3 linked regions of the Homo sapiens genome follow. The protein of the gene in region 2 interacts with the protein of the main gene of each other region in a pairwise test. Each region holds a gene or a part of one and is shown on either strand. Other genes may lie near its edges. The genes, in order: CNOT1, CNOT11 and GPBP1L1.

The links.
Region 1: the proteins of CNOT11 (region 2) and CNOT1 interact in binary tests that used the Homo sapiens proteins (3 or more experiments, as listed by UniProt).
Region 3: the proteins of CNOT11 (region 2) and GPBP1L1 interact in binary tests that used the Homo sapiens proteins (3 or more experiments, as listed by UniProt).

Annotation. Positions count from the first base shown.
Region 1 is NC_000016.10:58,521,741-58,525,470, reverse strand, and holds part of CNOT1 (CCR4-NOT transcription complex subunit 1), read left to right. Parts: intron 1-111; coding exon 112-292; intron 293-1,628; exon of another isoform or gene 1,629-1,968; coding exon 1,969-2,101; exon of another isoform or gene 2,102-3,730.
Region 2 is NC_000002.12:101,262,886-101,266,385, reverse strand, and holds part of CNOT11 (CCR4-NOT transcription complex subunit 11), read right to left. Parts: intron 1,542-3,500; coding exon 1,339-1,541; intron 265-1,338; exon of another isoform or gene 1-264. UniProt on the Homo sapiens protein: Component of the CCR4-NOT complex which is one of the major cellular mRNA deadenylases and is linked to various cellular processes including bulk mRNA degradation, miRNA-mediated repression, translational repression during translational initiation and general transcription regulation.
Region 3 is NC_000001.11:45,631,007-45,634,736, forward strand, and holds part of GPBP1L1 (vasculin-like protein 1), read right to left. Parts: intron 3,231-3,730; coding exon 3,090-3,230; intron 2,670-3,089; coding exon of another isoform or gene 2,642-2,669; coding exon 2,483-2,641; intron 1-2,482. UniProt on the Homo sapiens protein: Possible transcription factor.

The sequences.
Region 1 (3,730 bases), on a different chromosome or scaffold from region 2:
AATAAATGTTTGGCCTTTCCATGAAGGTGTAAGAAGGGTTTAGAAATACTGGTGCTAGAATTGGTCCTCTGCAGGAGTAAGCATAAGGAGTTCTGTTTTGCTCATTTTAAGGTATCCAATGAACCTGGGAATCGCTACAACCTCCAGCTCATCAATGCACTGGTGCTCTATGTCGGGACTCAGGCCATTGCGCACATCCACAACAAGGGCAGCACACCTTCAATGAGCACCATCACTCACTCAGCACACATGGATATCTTCCAGAATTTGGCTGTGGACTTGGACACTGAGGGTGAGTGAAGCCTGCCAGTTTTCAGAGTAGAGTTCTCTGTGCTTTTTGCTACAATCTGATCACAAAAATGTAAAAATGCTTCAAGCCACAATAGTGAAGGAATGTTCTGTCAGTATATTTATTCACAGGTCTAGCTGATTATTTTATCTTTAATTGGACATTATCTGCTCAGTGCAGGAAATACAAAAAAGCATAAAGGAAAGAATTATCCAGAATCGTGCAGTATCAGTTTTGGTGTATGTGACTGAAGTTTTTTAGTGTGAAAATAAACTTAAAGTCCCTTTAAACATAGCCTCTTGTTACATTGTTTTGTTAGGCTGCCTTATATAAGCATTTTTATTGGTGCGTGTTTGGCAGGCATCTTGTTAAATGTTCATGTATAAAGATTAATGAATAGGACTCTCCTGTTCTGCAAAAAGCTCACAGTATAACTCCTGTTGCAGGTTGCAGCTTTTCTGCTTGAGCTACATTTCATTTGGTCCTCTATATTTATCTTATAAAATAGAGACCCCAGTTAGGTGCTAACTAGTTGTACAGTCCTGTCCAGTTTTGCATACATATATTTTAGGGGGACACTACTCTTTAACTTTGCTATTGATTCTTGAGAGATGAATTGATGTTGCATATATGCTGCATGCCTATATGTGGGATGGATTTAAGACAGCTTAAATTCAAGATATAACAAAATTGAATACCATCACGTCCAAGAGCTCGGCAATAAAAGGACGGCAGCCTTTAGAGAAACGTGTCACTGTGACAGACTCACAAACACGAATAATGTCAAGCAGAGGCAAACAACCAAACCCAATTAAGATAATACTTATTCCAGTGTAGTTTAGACTAATCAAAATGTGGGCTGGGTACCCTTAGGGTGTCAAGACCTTTTTAGGAGGGCTGTGAGGTCAAAACTTTTTTTTTTTTTTTTTTTTGCGATAGAGTCTTGCTCTCACACCCAGGCTAGAAGGCAGTGGCGCAATATCGGCTCACCATAACTTCCGCCTCAGGGGTTCAAGCGATTCTCCTGCCTCAGCCTCCCGAGGAGCTGGGATTACAGGCACACGCCACCATGCCCAGCTAATTTTTATGTATTTTTAGTAGAGATGGGGTTTCACCATGTTGGCCACGCTGGTCTTGAACCCCTGACCTCAAGTGATCCACTTGCCTCAGCCTCCCAAAGTGCTGGGATTACAGGCGTGAGCCACCGTGCCCGGCCCAAAACTGTTTTCATCATAAAACAACATTTACATTTTTGGGTCTATTCTGTCATGAGTGTACAGTTGAATTTCTCAGAGGTTACATGAAATATACTGTAACAAGTTGAACACAGAAGCAGAAATGAGAATCCAGCTGTCTTTTATTAAGCAAGACTTAGAGATCTGCAAAATGTAGAAAGACTTAGTGATGAGTGTCACCAGAAAATAGTTCATGTTTCTTACATTAGCACATAGTGGGTCTGTTTTTAAAAATGAATATTTTTAAAATCTAATTTCTAATGTGGAAAATTCTGAAATAAAACGCACAGAAATGAGAACTCTTTGGGGTCCCAAGAACCACTGCTTTAAACCAAAGATTAATTTGAAAGCCTCTGTCAGAAACCCAAACCCTAGCCAGTTAGAACTGTCTTCCCATGTTGGCCTTTCAGACTAAGTCCTAAGTCAAGGTTTCTTAATTTCTAGGTCGCTATCTCTTTTTGAATGCAATTGCAAATCAGCTCCGGTACCCAAATAGCCACACTCACTACTTCAGTTGCACCATGCTGTACCTTTTTGCAGAGGCCAATACGGAAGCCATCCAAGAACAGATCACAAGGTAAGCGAGCAGCTTATTTTTTAAATGCTTCAAAAGGATCTCCTCCCTTTCATCTTTTTTTTTTCCTCTTTATGCTTTCAGTGTTCAGTGAAAATCCGTTTGGTTGGTTTTTTTTTTGTTTTTTTGAGACGGAGTGTTGCTCTGTCACTCAGTCTGCAGTACAGTGGCGCCATCTTGGCTCACTGCAACCTCCGCCTCCCAGGTTCAAGCGATTCTCGTGCCTTAGCCTCTCAAGTAGCTGGGATTACAGGCGCCTGCCACCACGCCCAGCTAATTTTTGTATTTTAGTAGAGACGGGGTTTCACCATGTTGGCCAGGCTGATCTTGAACTCCTGACCTCAAGTGATCCACCCGCCTCAGCCTCCCAAAGTGCTGGGATTACAGGCGTGAGCCACTGCACCCGGCCTTCAGTGAAAATCTTTTACATGTCCAATAATGTGTTAAATGTGGGATACAATTGTGAGCAAAATGGATGGTTCCTGCCCTCTTAATACTCATTCTGATGGACATTTATCACAAGATAGGGAATTATAAATCGCAATCATGGCTTAAATGAAAAGTAGTTTACCACAAGGCACATTTTGATTAAAGGTCAGGAGTTTCTCTGAGGTGGTGGTGATAACCAGTCCTAAATCATGCAGGCCTATGAAGTCTATGTTAAGGAACTTGGACTTTTCCTCATTACCTCTGGGTTGAAAGCAGTAGCAATAACAGGATCATACTTGCATTTTCCTAACAATAGTTAGGAATCTGTTGCCAGATTGCCTAGACTACATATAGCATTAGAGAGATTGTGATACACACACACACACACTTTAAAAATTGGGCCAGACTCTTAAAACTTGCTCATTTGCCTAATTAGTCACCTATGGTGCTAAATATGGTATTCCTTTGATTTGTGTACTAAAATTTAATATCTTATTGGATGCTTAGATGATGATGATCCATTTTGTTTATATAAAGCTGCAGTAAGTCTCCTTGGACTTGTAATCTTTGTTATGCTTCATGTACAGTTGGTACGTGAAAGGATATAAAGTTAAGCCAATGCTTACTGGCATTCGGAAAAATTTTACCAATTTACATGTGAACTAGCAATGTTAGCTTTTTTTTTTTTTTTTTTTTTTTTTTTTTTGAGACAGTCTCGCTTTGTCGCCTCCTGAGTAGCTGGGATTACAGGCACCTGCCACCACGTCCGGCTAATTTTTTGTATTTTTAGTAGAGACGGGGTTTCACCATCTTGGCCAGGCTGGTCTTGAACTCCCGACCTCGTGATCCACCCGTCTTGGCCTCCCAGAGTGCTGGGATTACAGGCGTGAGTCACTGTGCCCAGCCTGCAGTGTTAGAATACTTAATTCTTATTTTCTGTTTCCTTTTTATTGAGAGTGAGCTTATTTATTTATTTAATTTATCTGTTTATTTGAGACAGGGTCTCACTCTGTCTCCCAGGCTGGAGTGCAGTGGCACCATCTCGGCTCACCACAACCTCCACCTACTGGGTTCAAGCGATTCTCCTGCCTCAGCGTCCGACTGCTGGGATTACAGGCATGTGGCCACCATGTCTGACTAATTTTTATATTTGTAGCAGAGATGGGGTTTCACCATGTTGGCCAGGCTGGTCTCGAACTCCTG
Region 2 (3,500 bases):
AAATACTGTCTGGTTGTAACAATGTCAAGTCCTTTGCAGGTTTTTTTTTTCTGTCATCTGTTGTAACTAAAAATAATCTTAATGACCAACTAGTTCTCCCAAGAAACAGTCCTGCCCCACCCCACCCAGGTGGAGACCAGAAATACCTGAGAAGGGGGCGGAGTGGGAAGCCGGAGCGGGAATCCGGACAGCTGACCTGCTGCGAGTCATCAGTCTGCAGAACTTTACAGTTCAAGTCACACCCACACTTTGTAATTCAAACAGGTATCCTCAAAGGACTTTTTCTATGAAGTAAGCACTTCCTCTTTAAATGTCCTATGCTTTTTTTCCCCCGTCTACTTAATATGTTCCACAGTGGACTGTGTTTTCAGGATGGTCTTGCGAGCAAAGCGAACTACAAACGTTGCTATTATTTCGTTTTGAAAATGATATTTTTGGTGGCAAACGTGATAGGAGAGGTCATCTCCTAAAAAGTTCTAACTCAAAAGTGTGCAAACTGGATAAAATTCACCAACCAATAGAAGAGTGGCCTTGCCTTTCCTGAGGAGAGTCATCCAGTCTCACACTCGGGCAGTGGGGGCTACTTTAATCTCAAATACACCACGATCCAGCTGTGTGATGGGGGCGGGTTCCCCTTCCCAGCCTTGTTTTCCTCCCTACAGCCTGTCAGTAACTCCACTTTCCATCAGAAGCGTTACCATCAGCTCAAACGTAACCATTGTGTAGTGTCCCACTGTACACAGCAGTGACACCCCCACTACCCCACCTCTCCCAGGGACAAACATCACAAAGAAAAGTTAGAACATTTTTGCCATCAGACTTCTTGCCCCACCACAGCAAAATTACCAAAGAGTAGAACAAAGCTTCAGAGACCCAAAAACCTTTGCAACTTCCTACTGCTCACTCACAGTGACAGGATTAGTTTATTGCTTACCACTTTCCAAAAAAAAAATAAACTCTTGTTGGATTAAAGATAAGAAAATGCTCACAATGGCTGGGTACAGTGGCTCACACCTGTAATCCCAGCACTTTGGAAGGCCAAGGTTGGCAGATCACTTGAAGCCACCAGACCAGCCTGGCCAACAATGGCAAAACCCCATCTCATAAAAATACAAAAATTAGCCGGGCATGGTGGTGCATGCCTGTAGTCTCAGCTGCTGGGGGCGCTGAGGCACGAGTATCACTTGAACCCGGGAGGCAGAGGCTGCAGTGAGCCGAGATCGTGCCACTGCACTCCACCCTGGGCAGCCGAGTGAGACTCTGTCTCAAAAACAAATTTTTTTAATTAAAAATAAATTTAAAAAAAAAGATAAGAAAATGCTTACAATCAATACACACCTGTGTTTGTTGGGGAGAGGATAAGGGGCTTTTGAAGGCTTTGGCCATTATTCGTTTGATCTCCACACCAGTGCTATTCTTAACACACATCGATTTATCCCACTGGATCGCGTGGTCAGGCTCCGTGGGGTTTAGCCAAGCAAGTTCATCCTCACAAATGTGGAGTGGAGGCGGTGGACGAATAAACTCTGGTCGAAAATGGCCTGTAATGAGAGCCGTGATAGTTGCTCCTATCAGGAAGCTAACATCTCTACACATCTCACACATTTCACTTAATAAAGTATGCAAAGAAATCTCTTAATAAGGATGATGTGACTAGAACTCTCATACTTCAAAATCAGAAGCAGGAATGACACAGGAAGTCAGGGTTTCAGTCAGAATGCAAACAAGACAATGAAAGAACACTATGCCAGCATGATGCCAGAGAACAATCTATTCGCTTTGCAGAAGTGAGGAAAGCCTGGCCGTGATCTGCCCATGCTGCACTTGAGCATGGCCACTCAACAGCAAAAGGGCACGACTCCTAAACGGGTGAAGTCTTTTGATGAAAAAATGAAATACTATGCCCTCACACATCCTATTCTTAGTTACCACTATTTGTTCAGCTGCCACTATGATTTGTACTAGTTTTATCTTTGCATCTTATAACTGAAGTAACAAATTACGTGGCGATGAAGCAGCAGGAGGAAAAGTATGGTTGCCTTTTGATATTTCGAAACGAATGTGGAAACCGTCACGAATCCCTAAATTCACAAATACTATATTCATTTTCAGAAAACAATAGAAGTACAAAAGGAAAATGAAGTGGTTCAACTCAACTATTTTATAAAACAAGATTCATCCCTGAGTTACAAACCCACTGAAATAAATGCTGGCTAGGACTTCTGCTGAACCAATTTCACATCTCACATAGTTTCCACATAGGGCAGGAGTGGCTTATTCCTGTCATGGATCCTAGCCCTGCCAAATTTGAGAGTCTACTGTTGAGTTTACAGAAAATATTTTTTAGTTAAAAATCATCACTTTATCTTAAACATCTCCACTGCCTCTTCACTTACCTCACCAGGACTAGCATCTGAATCTCCCTTCAACCACTTACAAAAATAAAGTTTTTAACAATTTATGAGAAATACTACTTATGTGATAGAGAGTTCTTGCGAGGTGGGGACACCTGGTGTTTGGCTAGACCCACTTATTATGAGTGATCTGCTTTTCATATATCTTCCTGGTGACCTATGCAATTTAGAGTTCTGCCCGAGCAAATATTTAAAAGAAGCCATTACATGCCATGGACATTTCAGTCACACTTGTGACCAGCAGAAACTTCAAATATTAAACCTATGTATGTCAAAGATCTACTGTAAACCAAATGGTACAAAAGTCACTGTGTGAACTTCAAACTCATGGTGATACTACACTATCATCTGGTAAACATGTTCTCATCCCAAAGCAGAAAGCTTGCCTTCATAATTCAAAGCACACAGAAGCCTATAAAACAGATGCCAGGTAGAGTGGTGCATGCCTGTAATTCCAACTATGTGGGAGTCTGAGGTAGGAGGATCCCCTGAGCCTCAAGGGATTGAGTCCAGCCTGGGCATCATAGCAAGATTCCATCTCTTAAAGAAATCCCCAAAAAATGCAGCTATATTATTTCAAATTCTACAAGTGTTTTCTTTGAATTAAAGTAAATTAGGAGTTTATAAGAAAAACTTTAAAATGGAAAAGGAAATGATAGCAATAAGAAGATTTAACAGGTATAAAACAAAAAGATAATGAGCTGCTACAAAAAGACTCATTTCAGTAAAATGAGAATCTGTATTTTTTTTTTTTCCTTTTTGAGACAGAATCTCACTCTGTCACCCAGGCTGGAGTGCAGTGGTTCGATCTCGGCTCCTGCAACTTCTGCCTCAGCAATTCTCCTGACTCAGCCTCCCAAGTAGCTGGGACTACAGATGCATGCCACTACACTCGGCTAATTTTTTATTTTTAGTAGAGATGGGGTTTCACCATGTTGGCCAGGCTGCTCTAGAACTCCTGACCTCAAGTTATCCACCTGCCTCGGCCTCCCAAAATGCTGGGATTGCAGGTGTGAGCCACTGCGCCCAGCCTGTATCTTTAGGTATGCATAGGATAGACATGCAACAAACAACTTGGCATGCATT
Region 3 (3,730 bases), on a different chromosome or scaffold from region 2:
AACTGATCTTTGACAAAGGAAATACAATGGAGAAAAGATAGTCTTTTCAACAAATGGTGAGGGAACAATTGGACAGCCACACTAAAAAAAAAAAAATCAATCTAAACAAAGACCTTACAGCCGTCACAAAAATAAAGTCAAAATGGGTCACAGACCTAAATGTAAAACACAAAACTATAAAACTCCTATAAGGATAACATAAAAGAAAACTTAGATTACCTTGGGTATGACATTTATTTATTTATTTATTTGTTTATTTACTTACTTATTTTTGGAGATCAAGTCTCACTCTGTTGCTCAGGCTGGAGTGCAGTGGCGCGATCTCGGCTCACTGCAACCCCCGCCTCCCATGTTCAAGTGATTCTCATGCCTCAGCCTCCCATGTAGCTGTGACTATGGGTGCATGCTACCATGCCCGGCTAATTTTTCTGTTTTTAGTAGGAACGGGGTTTCGCCAGGTTGGCCAGGCTGGTCTCAAACTCCTGACCTCAGGTGATCCGCCCACCTCAGCCAACCAAAGTGTTGGGATTATAGGTTTGAGCCACCGTGACTGGCCTACAATTAATTAGGCTGGATTTCATTAAAATAAAAAAAATTTCTGCTTTGCAAAACACTCTGTCAAGAGAATTAAAAGACAGTGTAGTTGCTCACACCTGTAATCCTAGCACTTTCGGAGGCCAAAGGTGGGAGGACTGCTTGAGTCTAGGAGTTTAACACCAGCCTGAGCAACATAGCAAGAAGCTATCTCTGTACCAAACAAAATATTAGCCAGGCATGGTGGCACAAGCCTATAGTCCCAGCTACTCGGGAGGCTGAGGCTGAGGCATAGCTTGAGGAGGGGAGGTCGAGGCTGCAGTGAACTGTGATCATTAATGCCACTGCATTCAGCCTGGGCGACAGAGTGAGACACTGTCTCAAAAACAAATATGGCCGGCTGGGCATGGCAGCTCATGCCTGTAATCCCAGCATTTTGGGAGGCTGAGGTGGGTGGATTACCTGAGGTCTGGAATCCGAGACCAGCCTGACCAACATGGTGAAACCTTGTCTCTACTACATACAAAAAAAATTCCAGAAAATAGTATACTCTTTCATCCTCACAGGTCTAATTCCTTATCAGAACCACAAGGCTGTGTTCCAGAGTTATGGTCTGAGCTCTTGGTCTTCAAGGAAGCAGGTTGGCCTTCCTCTGCCTCTTGTTCTGCACTGTAGTTTCCTGGTCCTCTGGCCAGAGCTAAGAAGCTAAATAACGTGTGTCATGTGGTGGCACATGCCTGTAATCCCAGCTACTTGGGAGGCTGAGGCAGGAGAACTGCTTGAACCTGGAAGGCGGTGGTTGCAGTAAGCTGAGATTGCTCCATTGCACTCCAGCCTGGGCAACAGAGTGAAACTCCATCTCAAAAAATAAAGTAATACAAATAAATAAATATGGCCACATGTGGTGGCTTATGCCTTTAATCCTAGCACTTTGGGAGGCTGAGACAGGCAGAACACTTGAGGCCAGGAGTTCAAGACCAGCCTGGCCAACATGACGAAACTCCATCTCTACTAAGAATACAAAAATTAGCTGGGCGTGGTGGCGGGTGCCTGTAATCCCAGCTACTCAGGAAGCTGAGGCAGGAGAATCGCTTGAACCCGGGAAGCGGAGGTTGCAATGAGCCCAGATCGTGCCACTGCACTCCAGTCTGGGTGATAAGAGCCAGACTCTGTCTCAAAATAAATAAATAAGAAAGAATGAAGAGTCAAATCACAGACTTGGAGAAACTGTAGTCAAAGACACATCTAATAAAGGACTATTAACTAAGATATACAAAGAACTCTAAGAACTCTTAAAACTTAGCAATAAGAAAACAGACAACCTCATTAAAAAATGGGTAAGGGACCTGAACAAACACATCAACAAAGAAGATACATAGATGGATGCTCCACATGATATGTCATCATGGAAGTGCAAATTAAAACTACACACCTATCAGGAGGGCCAAAATCCAGAACACTGATAATATCGAATACTGGTGAGGAGGTGTAGCAACAGAAATTCTCATTTATTGCTGGTGGGAATGCAAAATGGCACAACCACTTTGGAAGACAGTTTGGTGGTTTCCTGACAAGCTAAACATGCTCTTACCATATGATCCAGCAATTGCGCTCCTTGGTATTTACCCAAAGGAGTTGAACTTATGCCAGCACAAAAACCTGCACATGGATGTTTACTGCAGTTTTATTCATAGTTGCCAACACTTGGAAGCAACCAAGATGTACTTCAATAGGTGAGTGATTACTAAAATAAACCCGAATTTAACATTTTTGCTGAAAAAAGGATTAAACTCACTTTACTATGTGGTCTAGAAGGCAGTTACACCTACAGACAGTATCTCTGTACATTTAAAAATCTTGCCACATCTTTATCCTTTAAGAAGAAGAAATCACGTATGTATCAAAGGAAAATTCCTAGGCTACCCCCAGAAAAGGCGGATGCTCTTACATCTTCCAGCTTGTCACAGTCTCTATTCTCTGAGAAGTCTCCATTCCGGTCATCCTTCAGAGTTTTCAGGAACTCACTCTTCCTGTCGGTGGTTCGGCGGGTCAACTTGGTCAGACGAGAGGAGCTGATCTCAATTGGAGGGGTGGTGCTGGAGGGACTCTGGGCAAATACCACAAACAGGTTGCTCCTGACAGCAAAGAGCAAGAACTGGGGTTCTCTTCTACTAAGTGCTGACTTCAAGAATCTGGTAGCCTATTTATCACTCTGTCTTAAACCAAACAATCCTTTTATTTAAGCAGTTCAAACTTCAGTTTTGCAGGGTTTATATAGTTAAGAGCAGCTGGCTTACATGGCACCTCTTTGATCTTTCTACAGACATCAGCAGAATGCCAGTCTAACATAGGATGACCTTGGTCCACCACAGAGCATCTATCCCATTTAGCCACTGCCCACTTTTGGATGCTAACAGAAAACATCAATAAAGAAACTATTCTCAGCTAAATATAGCTACAAAACAAGTGTCACAGCTATACATATTACACTTGTTATCTAAGTGAACGGGAAATGGCAATTTCAGAAAAGACTGTCCTGCTTCATCCTCACTCACCTCTTTGGGAGAACTCAGAGCTGCACCACTAGCCAGTACCACTGGTTTGGTAACAGAGATTGGACTGGTAAAAGCAGACTCCCGGCTAGAGGAAAGGGATCCTGACTTGTGCTCCATCCTGTTAGCTTTCCATGCATTAGGCTACACAGGGTGAAAGAACAAATCAGTCAGAACAAGCACACAAACAGAAGCTCAGCTTATAAAATCATAAAGCAAAGAGTGAAATGTTACATGAGAACATAAGTTTCCAGGGCTTACCTGTCTTAACATGTTTGGGAAGTATGCAACCTCTTTCGGAGGTTAGGCACTTCAAGGAAAATGGTAGATGGGATACAGAAGAGCCATTGGACATTAATAGTGACTTCCCAAAAACAGGGCTCTAGTTCAATAGTTCAATGAGTTTGGGAGGTGCCGGGGTGAAAAAAGTTCAACAAGGTTCTTCACTGTGCAATTTCTCAAAGCACTTAACTGCACATAAGAATTTGAGAGGCAGTTATGCAGCATTTTCCTAATTTATTGAATCCCAAAACTTTTTTTAGTAGTGTTTGTTAACTTTGGATGTAATCCTGATAGCCCACAAAGTGCATCACAAAATTGCTGCTTTCCAGGAACTCTGATGGCAAAAGGCTAGTTCCAGGCCA